Linked DNA regions of Homo sapiens. The main gene of each other region encodes a partner of the protein of the gene in region 2 in a complex. Each region holds a gene or a part of one and is shown on either strand. Other genes may lie near its edges. A codon is read from its position in the direction of its gene.

Region 1 (7,034 bases), on a different chromosome or scaffold from region 2:
ACATTTCGTTCTATTCTTTTAAATGACATTAATCTTTACCAAGCTGGTCAACTTGAAAATCAACACGGAAGAAGAAATCAGGGTAGTGATGACCAATCTGATTTCAGGATTTGAAAATTTCTGAAGTTACTTACTAAAACTGAAACATGTATCTCTACACTTGATACATTTGTATTATTTTTAAGGAGATACTAAGTTGTTAAGACATAAATAGTTGAGTTATTTGGACTTAACCACTTAAAAAAACAGAACTATTAGGTATTTCTTTTGACCCACGGGTGTCATGGAATAAAATCACTGAGAGACTAGGGTCTCATGAACTGAGAAAGTTGGAGAGGTTCTGTTTTAACATATGCAAGAATATATAAATAAGTGTCAACATCAGAAGTAAATGATGCTTTGGACTGTTGATTCTTCACAACTAGAATTAGATAATGCCAGGGAAGATATGGTTCTAGGTGATTATATTAAATATATGATTCAGAGCTTATACTAACCCTCAGGAAGCAAGCCAGATAGTCACTGATTTAAAAAGAGACCTTAAATAGATAAGATGCAGAGAGGTAAAGTACAAAACAGAGAAAGCCTGCTTTGTTTGACTCTCTTTCTCTCTTGTCTTTTTTCCCTGGTTTCTATTTAGTTTCTACCTATTGTACTGTGAGGTTTCCTCCTTAAAATGTTTGTAGATATCGACCCCGTAGACCTGGTCTATTTGTATAAAGCAAAGGTATACTTTTTTCCCCTGTCTTAGAATTACATAAAAAGTAAAATCTTGTATCATTTTTATTTTCAAAAATTATACAGTGCTTTGTCATTCATCAAAGAGTCAGCTACTAGAAACTGTCAAACTGTTTTATTCATATATTTTATTGATCAGTATTTATAGATTGCACTGTTCCATAAATTCTCTCTCATGGCTTATCCTTGTTCTGTATCTTTCTTTTGTAGGTAATTTCCTGGTACAAAAATAGTTGAGTTGCCAATTTAAAATTGTACTTTAACCAAAAGAGTCATATCTACTAAGCGGTTACTGCTGCATTACCATGGTTGTCGATTTGACATAGACGTTGTTTTTCAGATGACAGTTTCCGTCATTGGGCACCACTATGCCTGCCAATTTGCTATCAAGAGCGAGATGAGACGTCTGATCTGTCATCACCAGCAGCAATCTTTTAGCCTCTTTTCGCCATCCGATATGACTCTTAAAAATAAACATGTAATTAGACTTTGTACAATAACACAGATGTGTACTGTGGTTTTTACCTCAAGTAAACATTACGTTTGAGTTGACGAACAGTAAGTCAGGCTAGAACGATGTGCGTGGGTACAACGCTGCTGCGTAAATAGCTTTAACTTTTATTTGTACATCCTCTATTTTCCCACAGCCATGTGACCACACTAGTTCCTGGCTAGAGATTTCTAGTGTTCCACTGGAGGAAGAACAATATAGATTAAAAAGTAGGAGAGGCCAGGCACGGTGGCTCATGCCTGTAATCCCAGCACCTTGGGAGGCCGAGGCGGGCGGATCACGAGGTCAGGAAATCGAGACCATCCTGGCTAACACGGTGAAACCCCGTCTCTACTAAAAATACAAAAAACTAGCCGGGTGTGGTGGCGGGCGCCTGTAGTCCCAGCTGCTCGGGAGGCTGAGGCAGGAGAATGGCGTGAACCCGGGAGGCGGAGCTTGCAGTGAGCCGAGATGGCGCCACTGCACTCCAGCCTGGGCGACAGAGCGAGACTCCGTCTCAAAAAAAAAAAAAGTAGGAGAACAAGCTGAAGTGAGGAGGGCAACAGTCTACTTCTAGTTCCTCCTTGGAGTGTGGCGCATGAGAAAAGCAGCCCTTTTGGAAAGAATTTTCGCGTTCATAACCTATTCTTTCCCTTTTGTCTTTTCCTATTTAAATCCCTCCCTGAATTTAGCCCCTCTGTCCCAAACACATACCGAAATGAATCACCTTGGTGAGGAGTAAGAGATAGTAAGATATGTTTTCTTCTACACTACGTTTTCACTCCACAAATCAAAGAGAAAATAAAACGTCTAAATTCTTTGAAAGTTTGGCATCTTAGCAAACACTCGATCATGTGAAACGTCTTACTTCACAGACAGCTGCCTGAAGCATGGCGTCAAAACCTCCTTCTGGTGTATCTATGTTTCCAGAGATCTTCTGTCTATGAACTGCTTTCTCAAACTCAGTGATGTTCTCTGTCAAAGACAGCACATGGATGTATCCATGGGGAGGCATGCAGTCTAAATTGTAGTCACTGTGTGGGAAAAGAAGAAGTGTAAAGTTTATTTTGCTCTTCTTAAGCATTCTGGAATACTTAACAGTAAAATTGTACAGTTGTGTGAAAAGGGAGTACTTCTTTTGTGCCAGGGAAACTTTATACGACGAAAATCTATGCTTATAAAATTAGAGATAAGCTCAATGCTGATGACAATTTCTTTGCAAATAGGAAATAAGACTATAAGCATTTGGTATTCAAAAAAATAAAGATGATTAAACATGTTTTTTAATATAGGACAGTTAAAGGCTTTCAATATTTAATCTGCGCTGTGAATTTTTAAGGTGAATATAAGAATGTGCAGTGATTTCTTATCATTGAACAGCTGAGAAACACTTCTGGAAAATGCTTTTGAGGAATTTAGTTGAAATATGATATTAGTTTTTTTTAATACTGCACTAATTTTTAAAGTGATGCTTGGTGGAATTATTGATGAACAATCAATATTCATTAAAATTATTTTGAGAATCTATGATACCCAGAAAGTAAGAATGATTCCTCCTGTACATTCACCTCAAGAAGGCTTATGAAACTCCATTGATGGATGCATCAATCCTGTTCCGGTACAACAGATGACAGAGCTGTTTCGGTAAATTGGAATGTGTATTGTAAAGTAATCTAAGCAATTTGTAGAAGCAAGAAAGATAAAGTCTTTTGTGAAAAAAGATCCATACAGATTTATTTTTCTGAAAATTCCACAGGCTAATGGCAATATTGTGTGAGACACTTGTATTTTTAAGGCTAATTCTTCTTTCATAGTGGGACATATGTTATTTAGAATCAGAAATCTAAAATGATAAGAAAAAAGGCTCTTTCTAAGCAATCAAATTCTCATCTTTTGACCCACTTTCTTTGTGATAACTGAGATTTCTTTGTAGTCACATCGGAGACAACATCATTATCCCCAGTCACAGTACAGTAATGGAGAGATAGATGACGTGTTGGCACAAACTCTTTAAAATGTGTCAAATCATAATTCAGCAATTTTGGAGCAATCAAAAAATAAAAATACAGAATTTCCAAAGAGGTATTTATATACATGGCAGCCTAACTATTGAAGCTTCATTCAAAGTTACTAACATTAGGTAGGGTTTTTTGTTTGTTTTTTTGTTTTTTTTGGTGATAAAAACTGACTAAATATTTAAAGAAATATAAAATAAAAAGCCCAATCTACAGTTCATCTCAGAAGTTTTCAGATATGAAGAAACCTCCCCACCTCACCAAATATTTTTATTCTTATTTTATAAGATAAAAATATAAAATTTGGTAAGTTCTTTACATTAAAAACAAAGTGAGATTTTATAAGCAAAAAATTAATTTAGCATATCCACATCAAACCCTAGATACCTGCATTGATTATGAATCCTTTCGGGGTGGATGCTAATGTATGGTGAAACTGTTTTATCAACGTATGAGCCAAATCCAAGACGAAAGTCACGGGAGAAAAATGCCATTTTTCTAGATAAATCGTTTCCAACGGAATTTAATTTTTCTATATTATTGTGCATTGATGCTGAGACATCAACAAGATAATAAAGATCCACAGGATATTTCTTCAGAGGATGAACTTTCAGCATAAAATTAGCTTCGGCTCCTAGTTCAATAGAAGAAAAACATCATGTAGTCTTCATTTTAAACTTTTCAGGATAAGCTCTTAATAAATTAGTCACATTCTAGCACCTAGCACAATCATCACAAATTTGCACATAAAATTTGGAATATGCTAGTGTAATTATAATAATTATAGTATAATTATTATTCTAGTATAATTATAAGGCAATTTGAAAACCATACCAATTTATTGGTCTCCAAATCCTACAGTTCATTTCCCACAATTCTATAGGCTGAATAGGGATAATAACAAATGGGCCAGCTCCATATAAATGTAACAGGGTATTGTATCATTATATGAACCTCCATTGCCTTAGTAGCTAGAAAAACACAGTGCAAACCAGCAAGCGGCATTCGATCTCAAGACAGTGAGGGGGATGTACGTGTGGAATGACTTGAGGAAAACTGGGAAGGTATCTTTAAAAAAAGGTGATCTCCTATTGGATAAAGGCATAAATTTATTCCTTTGGGTTAAAGTGTATTTACACAGGAGATGAGAAAACTCTGGTACTGTGTAGTACAGCAAGCTATTCAAAATAATTAGTACCTCATCACTAGTTAGTTGGTAAGATTCTTCCCATCAGTTAGCCAAGTGAAGGAATGAGACAGTGGGCTAAAGAATGGTGCCCTGCAGTGCCACATGGAGGACCTGGGGAAGGTAGGGGTCAGCATTTGTCCAACACACGGTAGGTGTTCAATGAACACATGCTGAGGAGGGGGCCCATGAGCGAGGCACCCACCTTGGGCAAAACAACTGGATGAGGAGAGGGGGCTGCCACAAGGACAAATGTCGGTAGTCCCCGCAGGGAACTACAATTTTATTTAGTTCTCTGTCATATTACTATTTGATACAAGGACTTGGGTTGTCCCCCCTAACCCTCTATAGAGTTGGTACCTCTACTTTTAATTTCAAGTATATGGTGAAAAGGCATCTATTTAAATGTAAGCAATTTGTAATTTGTAAATTTTACTTTTTTAAACTATTAAGTAAATGCTTTGTAAGTCATTATTTTTCCATAAGAATATTCCGAATGGAAAACATTTTTAAAATAAACATTCATTTGTATACATAATTTACCTATTTAAAGAACCTTCTAATTTATCAAATTATATTTTTGGTGTTAGCATAAAATAGCAATATTTTCTTTTCGATTATTTCACAAATCAGATGTTTTTCAGCCAAATTACCTACTGTATTCAAAATAATAAGGTTTTGCTGGTATATAATAATAATTATGGAGAAAGGGACTACTCATTCCTAATTTGCTTTTTCTGTGCAGGCAACCCCTTTAGTGTAATGCTCCTAGGTTTTGGCCCATATTTGAAAGGAGAAATAGGGCACACATGGCCCAGCCCAGTCCATTCTCTCATCCCTTGCCTTCAGAAGCTAGGCTGCCTCCTGAGAGCATATCCTATATTCTGCTCTGCTTTTGGGCTTCTGTTGACAGAAAGAACTGTTCCTGTGGCAGTGTTCTGCAATTTGAGTGGAGAAATTAAATTCAGGGGAATGTTAGACACTGGTACACTGGGCCAGATCGATGAGAAGTAGAAATTCAACACTACTGGGAGAGCGGTTCATGTTCAGGGACTTGAACCTTGATGTGTGGATCAGCGTTTTTTTGGTTTTGTTTTTCACTCAGACAAAAAGTGTCGACTCTCTCTAGGTGAACTGCTGTTGATGAAAAGTGTTGCTATCTTTGTAGATTTAAAAAAGATTGTTTTTGTAAACCGGCCACATGGTATCATGGTATTTTTATCTTGGTGAATCGTTGCAGTTTATGGTGGCTCTGTCTAAAGATAAATGGCTGTTTTCAGAGGTACTGCTAGATGTAATAGATGGTCAGCATATTGTGCCAGGGACCCAGCAAAGGTATAGGTTGGTGACCTCAGCAAACAACCAGGGCCTGTACAGCATCAGCAAAAGCCCAGTCCTTGGAGGTAAGCTATTCAGGGCCCTCCAACCAAATGCTAGCCACACAAGGGCCCTCAGCAGAAACCAGCTGCTCATAGCCTAGCAAGCAAATTCCGGTCTCGCTGGCCTCAGCAAAGAAGAGAGGCTGTGAGAAAGCACTGCCAAATGGTTGGGGTGTGAGAGTGTGGGCTGCTGTGGCTCGATTTTGGATTCTATAAATTCTGGCCTTAGCACGTATACCGGAGTCAGCTGAGGCCTTGGTAGAGAAGTTTCTAATAAAGAGGAAAAGAGTATTTCCATACACAGGCCTTTTAGTAATCGCTAGCAAGAATAATAATTGATATTTTTACACTGCAAGACCCTTGAGCTTGCTGTGAGGGTCTAGCTTTAAGTAGTCAATTCAAGGTAAATAGACCTAGCTAGGCTGACCCCAAATCGTGCTCTGCTTGATAAGGAGGAAACCAAAGGGGTCAAGCTTGGATTACCATGTCATGCCCATTAGTTTGAGATAGTCCTCATAATATGCTCTCAAGTTGGCTTTGGATCATATAATTATAAATAAAGGAGAAGACTCTTGGGGGCAGGTGTCCTAGGCATCAGTATTCCACAGTAAGAGGACATAGAAATACCTTTTTGCAGCACTGTGGATATTGTGTCCCTAGTTAACACCCCCACTTAACCTTTGTACGTGATCTCATCATAGAGCCACTTATAAACTATTTTGGACAAGATGCCTGGGCATAATTTTGGAGGAGAAATGGAATAGGGTACAAAACATGGGCTTAGAGTGACCCTGGAAATGATTTAATTAATGAAGTACTATGACCCATTTCAGGGTTTCCAGGAAAATCTCCACTTCCCATCAGTGGTTTCAGAGTTAGTACCAAAGGAACTCTAGTTGGCATGGGGACGTGGCTACATGAAAAGGACAGCAGAAATGTCCTGATAGACCATGGATCCCTGCCCTGACAGGGACAGCACCCTCAGTTTCATCACGTGCTTAATGGCAATATCCATTGGTTTTAAACAGAGCCTGGAAATGTTAGGGAGGGGAAGGAAGGGAAGGGGAATGATTGCTCCTCACTTTTCCTCCTTCCTCCCAAGTAGGACAAGCCCCATGACAATAACCCCCTCCCACATTCACTCCTCCTCAAGCATAATATATGATTTTCAAAGCCATTTTACCTAAAGAATTTTATTAATTTTGCACAAGCCATGTTGAATATAT
Region 2 (7,034 bases):
TTTGAAGCCACTGAGTTTTTTAAGAAGAATGAAATCATCTACTAAAGAAAACTAAATGTTATGCCCTATGGGGAAAGCATTAAGGGAGAGGGAGAAAAAAATGGAACAAGGAAAGCAAAGGACTGGCCGCAGCTCAGGGAGCAGGTGAGTGTGATCTGCAGTAAGAGGGTGGGTGGAAAGATAGGTGACAGATGGAAAAAAACATCTGGAGTACAACAGCAATCGCTGGAGGCCTGAATATGAGAGAAAAGACATTCAAGAATGCCACCTAGATTTCCTTCTTGAGTGCATTGATGGGAGAAAAGCCTAGAGAGCAGAGAAGCAGAAGGCAGATTAAGTACTTACAGGAGTTCAAGACTAGCCTAGGCAACATAGTAAGACCCCCATCTCTACAAAGAATAAAACAATTCACTGGGTGTGGTGGCATGCGCCTGTGGTCCCAACTTTGGGGGTGGAGCTGGGGTCCTGAGACAGGAGGATGGCTTGAGCCCAGGAGGTTGAGGCTGCAGTGAGCTGTGATTACAAGTGCTACAAAGTAAGCAAACAGCCTGGGTGAAACAATGAGTCCCTGTCTCAAGAAATAAAATAAAATTAGTATTTACAGAAAAACCATGAATTCAATTATTAATATGTTTGTTTGAGATATCTGTGAGTCATCCAGTTGTAGTCTGAAGCCCTGCCTGAGACAGTATGCTGTATCAGAACACAGTTGGGGTTATTCAGCCAGGGGAAGCGTCGAAAGAGGAGGGGCAATGAGTGAGTTCTCAGGGACAACAACATTTAGGAGTCAAGAAGAGAAAGAAGATAAAGTAAAAAAGATTTTTGTCTTTAATCTCAAGAAACTGATTGAAATATAGGAGGAAATAAAGCAGGATACAGGCAGACAAAAACAGTCCTAAAATGCTATCACCATAATCATTTTGTTTCATTAAATACTAAGTCACTTAAATTATTCTGGCAAAGGAAACATTTACAATTGCTTTTCACCTTTTTGTGAAATTAGAACGAATGTACATCTTAAATATGGAATGCATTCACTTGAACTTTTAAAATCAATTTCTTATTCTGGGTAGTAGCTGCCAAATCTCATCTACAGTAGACAAAAGCTGGCTGTACGAATTGCAGGGTTACAAAGAATCCTGCTTTCTGACACTTATCTTAAAAATCCACAAATTCAAAATAAAGACGTAACTCCCAACCAAACCACGCCCTATTTAATAGAGCTCCATGCAGTCATATCTGGCATCAGTAAAACACCAATGTTGGCTCTCTCCCATCACGGCAAAATGATTCTGGGTAGAAAATGAACTTAGTTTTCATTCAGCAAAAGTCTTTCATAAGAAAAAAAGAGGTTGGGCACAGTGGCTCATGCCTGCAATCCCAACACTTTGGGCGGCTGAGGCAGACAGATCACTTGAGGTCAGGAGTTTGAGACCAACATGGCAAAACCCCATCTCTACTAAAAATATAAAAATTAGCCAGGCGTGGTGGCATGAGCCTGTAATCCCAGCTACTCGGGAGGCTGAGGCAGGAGAATCACTTGAACCTGGGAGGTGGAGATTGCAGTGAGCCAAGATTGCGCCACTGCAGTCCAGCCTGGGCAACAGAGGAAAACTCTGTCTCAAAAAAAAAAAAAAAAAAATGCTATGAGTAAGAGAGTCCCCACCTCCCATAACTAAGAGAGCAGCTCGTCATCAAAACCCCATCGGTTCTTTTTCTAGAGCAGAGTTGGTTAACACAGTGAAACTCTGTGTGTGTGTGTGTGTGTGTGTGTGTGTGTGTGTATAAATTATAATATGTAAATTTATTACATATACAATTTTTTTTCTACGGGTCTAAAATTTGACCCCAAAATCACACAACTACCCCTTTTCATCAGAATTAAATGATTTTTGAGTGCATACTAGAACAAAAGAACAGTTCAGGTAAGTTTGCTTTTGAGGGTCAATATCTTGAATAGTGCTTGCTTGGGACATTGCCACAGTAGTCCTAATGAGAGTAATACAAGCACAGGTATGTACACGTTCTTAGTGTTGTAGATCATACCAGGTTCTACATCAGGATAGGAGAACTGGTTCTCAAGCTTTGCCTGGAAACCTACAAGCAAAAATCACTTCTGGGTTGTCTTCAAATAGTAGCTCACAGCAGTGGTCCCCAACCTTTCCTTCCCTGGACATAGAGGGGGATGCTTTCGGGATGAAACTGTCCAACTCGGATCACCAGGTATTAGGTTCTCATAAGAAGCATGTAACCTAGATCCCTTGCATGCACACTTCACAGCAGGGTTCACACAATAGGGTTTGCTCCTATGAGAATCTAATGCCACCACTGATCTGACAGGAGGCAGAGCTCAGGTGGTAATGCTCACTCTCCTGCTGCTCACTTCCTGATGTGCAGCATGGTCCCTAACAGGCTATGGACTGGTACTGGTCCATGGCCCGAGGGTTGGGGACCCCTGTCTTACAATATATTTTATAACTTTTTGGTCAAAACTATTCTGCCTACCTTATGATAAATTGCTTCTTTGAATGTAGGGTACTCTAATTCATCTTTTGCACCTGCCACATTATAAGAACTCAAGAAAAGTTTAAATGGACAGTGGAGTAACAAAGTAAATTCAATAGCTATGTCTCAATCTTAAAGTAGCCATATATAAATAAGTCATTTCCACTACGTCTGAACCCCTCAAGAATGCAGAAAGCATCCTCTATTAAACATCCAATTATTTAAATTACCCTTAAAACAATTTCCTTGTGTAACATCTCTACTTAATTTTGGGTTTCAGATACTTTCTTTACTTGGCACTATAAGACAGAGAGAGCTCGGAAGTTATTAGGAGAAGGCCTTCAACAAAGACAGAGAAAAAGAGCCCAGTAGGAGCATTCTCTGAATGAAAACACCACTCTATTGGCAGCACATAGCATGAGTTCCTTGAATAATACCAGGAACAAGCCTGTTGCTTTTCATCAGGCTATCTGCACATTATAGGCATGAAATGATGGTAATCAGGTGTACAAATGGATGTTCATTAAGTTTTCCTAAGCATACCTTCATGTGCAGACTTGCATACTGGTGAAATGCTACAGAAATGGCAGAATAATATAAAAGGAATGTGTCAATATCTACATGCTAAATTTGTGAGGGAAAAAAGCTGATGAAGTTTTTCATCCAAAATGCCATCTCGATATTAAAGTTATCATTAAGATATTTAAGTTTTTTAAAGAGAACAATGAAGAGATAGAGAAAGTAAAATGACCTTAGACATATGTTAAAGTCTTACGAGGAAGCTGTGTAGTGAAAAAGAAATACTTGCATAGAAAACTGGGTACAAGGTGATAAAAGATGCTATATAAAAAAATTAAGGAATAAAAAGCAACACAGGCCAGGCACGGTGGCTCATGCCTGTAATCCTAGCACTTTGGGAGGCCAAGGCAGGAGGATCACTTAAGGTCAGGGGTTCAAAACCAGCCTGGCCAACATGGTGAAACCCCATCTCTACTAAAAATACAAAAGTTAGCCAGAAATTGCTTGAATCCAGGAGGCGAAGGTTGCAGCAAGCCAAGATTGTGCCACTGCACTCTAGCCTGGGCAACAGAGCAAGACTCCATCTCAAAAAAAAAAAAAAAGCAACACATACTACAAAAAACAAAGTTAATAAAACACTCCATAAAAATAATTGTTACTTGAATTTCATCTAAGAATGACTAATGAAAGTGTACAACAGCTTAATTAGGGTAAGAGAACTGACAGACCAGAAAAAAAATGTTTGTGATCTAAGCAGCACTATCTAATGGAAACAGTTTGGAATTAAAATTTACAAACACTGCAAATCAATTGAAGCAGTAACTTTGAATCTCTGTTCCCTTCTATCGAATGGCAATAACAATGCCCACTGTAATTACTTTAAAAAGAAACTTTCTGAAGGTGATAATAAATAAATGCAAACTTAGAAAATCTGAAACACCACGAAAATACAAGATGATGGGATTTAATTATCATCTTCGTCCTGAAAACAATTGATGCCATTAATAAGTTATTCCCTAGAAGAGTAGAAAATGTAAAACTTAAATTCTGTCTTTAAAAGGGCTTTTCTTTCCTCAGTGTTTTCAAAGGGCCATTAATGGTCAAGTGATTAACTCAAATGAAGAAGAAAAAGAGAAAGAAGGGTAGAAAAGCCAGCTTAAACATTTCTTATCAATGGTGGCGAGGTGGGGAGAATACACAGGGTGAGGTAAGGTTGACAAGAGTTTTCACTGATTAGCAGTGTAAATCTGAAGCTGAGTGACTTAATTTCCTATGCCCGCAACTCTCTCCTGATAGACTCCATTTCCCTCCAAAAAGTATGTCCAAGAACATCATCAGAATCCCCATCCTCAACATTTTTTTTTTTAATGACTGGAAACACTGCCATTAAATAACTCTCTGGGACTTCAAAATTAAGGTTTACATCCATGCCAAGAAGTGCTAAAATATAAAGGATTGAGTTTGGGAGAGAGGACAGAAAGATGGATGGAAAGGAAGAAAAGAGATAGAGGAAAGGAAAAAGAGAGGAAGGACAAGAGACAGAAAAAGAAAAAAGAGAGAGCGATACAGAGGGAGAGGTATCAGAGGAGGCAGTGAGAGGGAGACAGACAAGAGGCTCAGAGGAACCAATCAGGAGGATGGCCTTTGGATGCACTCCCTATCCAAACTGTACTTGAAGGGCAGTTGATTCACGGAATGTGACCTTGACAACCAAGGAGGGGCAACCTGCCAAACAATGACAAGTCCATTTTTCAAACCCTCCAAATAAACTAACTTGTTTGTCTGCTTTCAGCACTGACCTTTCTAAGATAAAGCATGTTTAATATATTTAGCTGACTCTGAGTTGACCAATGAGCCTTCACCAAAAGGAACTTCTGAAAAACTATCATACATGTATATAGAAATAAATGTGTATGAAATAGTACTGAATGTTATTTCAAAGCTACAATTCCAGTTTCAGATTTACTTTTCATTTTTTAAAAAATGCTTTTTTGAATCAAAAGAAAAACAAAAATGCCAGTCAACAACTACTGTAAAACAGAAGCAGTAACTACAATTTCCACATATTTTCCCTTGTCTTTCATAATGCTCTATGAAACATCATATGTCCTTAATCAGAAGTAATATAGGATTTGCTTTCTAAATAACAAAATTATAGCCTAGTTTTATGTCCCCTAATATACATGTATATTATTTATGATGAGAAAAATCAGCCAATATAATCAGAGCTACTCTGAAGTTTATAAAAAATGAGCTGGCATCATTTTGTAAAGTGTTGTGAAAAGGGTTAAAATGGTAAGAGTAGAAATGGTACATGAAGTTTTAAAAATACACACAGGTTGGGACAGATTGCAAGTGACCTTAATCCATGTTAAGCGGTTTGGACTTTCTTGCTGGCAATGGAAGCTTTATTATGAAAATTTTTGCAACAGAATACCAGGATGAAAAAGGATGTTACAGAAAGATAAAATGAATAGAAACAGACAAGATGTTCTGCACGTTTAAGAGCCAAATGATGGGCAGAGGGATGGGGGAGGACCTGAGTGCCACTGACTATGCTTGTCATAACTACACTGAAATAAGGAGTAGAAAGCAGAGATGGAATCAAGAAAACCTTAAAAAGGAAGAATTTCTAGGAGCTTCTGCCTGTTGACTAATCACTGACTGATATTAAGGTGGTGAAGTAGGAGAAACACAGAAAAATAGAACATGAGAGGGAGGAATATGAAAGTATTTCCAAGGTGACAGAGAAAATGATGCCAGCATTAATAGAAACAGAGGTGCAACTAACATCTCTTGGTGAAGACTTTTTAGTCAAATTGAGTTAAGACAGGCTAGTCAACGAGAAATGATTCACAGGCCAGGCCACTGGAATATCAAGTCAGAGATCTACTTTTAGATTTAAGATACAGCCAGGGCAAGAGTTTTATTTAAAAGGCTTTCCAGATATTGCAAACATGAAGTTAGGACTGAGAACCATTGAAGGACCTTCTGCTTCTAAGGCATACACATCTACACATTGCCAACTGTAAGATAAGGCTCCATTAGCGTTTAATGGGGGGAAAGGCAAGAATCCAGTGTCATTCATTATAGCATTATTTTAAAATAAAGAAATACATAAAATGAGAACTGTATAACATATATTTGAAGAATGAATTTTAAAATTGTTCAGTTATTTTCTTTAAAAATTCAATATTTGAATTAATAAAAGTGGGATTTGAATTTTACACCCTGTCTTCGGATCCTTCCCTTCCTTACCCTCTACTCACACCAACCTACTCAAATAACTAGACTGCAAACGGTTCTGCCTCCATTTCCTCCTCATCTGTAAGAATGAGTATATCTGCTTCCCCTTACTTCCCCCCGGTGGTGTGGGCTATAGAATGAAATGAGATATAAGTGCTTAGCAAATTATAAAATATGTTTACCAAAATAAGATGTCATCATTATAATTAAACCTAGGATGTAATTTTTAATTTTTCCAATTAGTCTCCACAAGAAAAGTATGACTCTAATTATTAGCCTGCATACAATCTTTAAATTTTATGTAAGTTTTACAACATAGCATAAATAAATGCTTATAGAAAAAAAAACAGAATGCGAATGTTTTTTCATAATTTTGAAAATCACTATATTTGTGAATTTTTACTTCGAACCTGACTCATTTCTGGAGTGATTTTTTGAGGGGCCGCCTTAACATTTTGCTTAGTACTTTGTCCTTCCCTTTAATAAATATTGATTCATTAATTTTCACAACAAAACTATGAACTATGCAGATAATTCAATAATAATTTTCTATAAAGAGAAAAATTAGGCATAAAATAATTCTACAGCTTCCCCAAGGTATGTGGACACCAAAACTGGAAAAAGCAACAGGAGTGGACGTCACAACCACTGCTCCTCACAAATCCTTCTCCCCTCAGAAGAAAGGCGCTCTTGAATTGACAAATACTTTTTCATTATGTGGCTTTTTTTCTTTTAAAAGTTTATGGTAATACCAAATAACAATA

Evidence for each region.
Region 1: the proteins of ITGAV (region 2) and ITGB8 are in contact, whole or in part, in a cryo-EM structure (PDB 8TCF), measured with the Homo sapiens proteins. Residues at the interface, in NP_002201.2 of Homo sapiens: Tyr48, Phe51, Trp123, Leu141, His143, Gln150, Glu151, Arg152, Pro154, Phe184, Gln186, Phe189, Pro204, Trp209, Asp249, Tyr251, Tyr254, Arg275, Arg278, Thr279, Gln301, Met302, Ala303, Tyr305, Phe308, Pro328, Leu329, Met331, Ser335, Asp336; in NP_002205.1 of Homo sapiens: Ser197 (codon at 3,677), Pro198 (codon at 3,674), Ile202 (codon at 3,662), His203 (codon at 3,659), Pro204 (codon at 3,656), Arg206 (codon at 3,650), Ile250 (codon at 2,150), Asp251 (codon at 2,147), Thr252 (codon at 2,144), Pro253 (codon at 2,141), Thr287 (codon at 1,144), Ser288 (codon at 1,141), His289 (codon at 1,138), Leu290 (codon at 1,135), Ala291 (codon at 1,132), Leu292 (codon at 1,129), Asp293 (codon at 1,126), Lys295 (codon at 1,120), Leu296 (codon at 1,117), Gly298 (codon at 1,111), Val300 (codon at 1,105), Pro302 (codon at 1,099), Glu321, Ser324, Leu325, Gly326, Gln327, Glu330, His349, Trp350.

Annotation. Positions count from the first base shown.
Region 1 is NC_000007.14:20,375,894-20,382,927, reverse strand, and holds part of ITGB8 (integrin beta-8 precursor), read right to left. Parts: intron 5,598-7,034; exon of another isoform or gene 5,527-5,597; intron 3,878-5,526; coding exon 3,631-3,877; intron 2,263-3,630; coding exon 2,097-2,262; intron 1,202-2,096; coding exon 1,043-1,201; intron 1-1,042. UniProt on the Homo sapiens protein: Integrin alpha-V:beta-8 (ITGAV:ITGB8) is a receptor for fibronectin. It recognizes the sequence R-G-D in its ligands.
Region 2 is NC_000002.12:186,593,045-186,600,078, reverse strand, and holds part of ITGAV (integrin alpha-V isoform 1 preproprotein), read right to left. Parts: intron 1-7,034.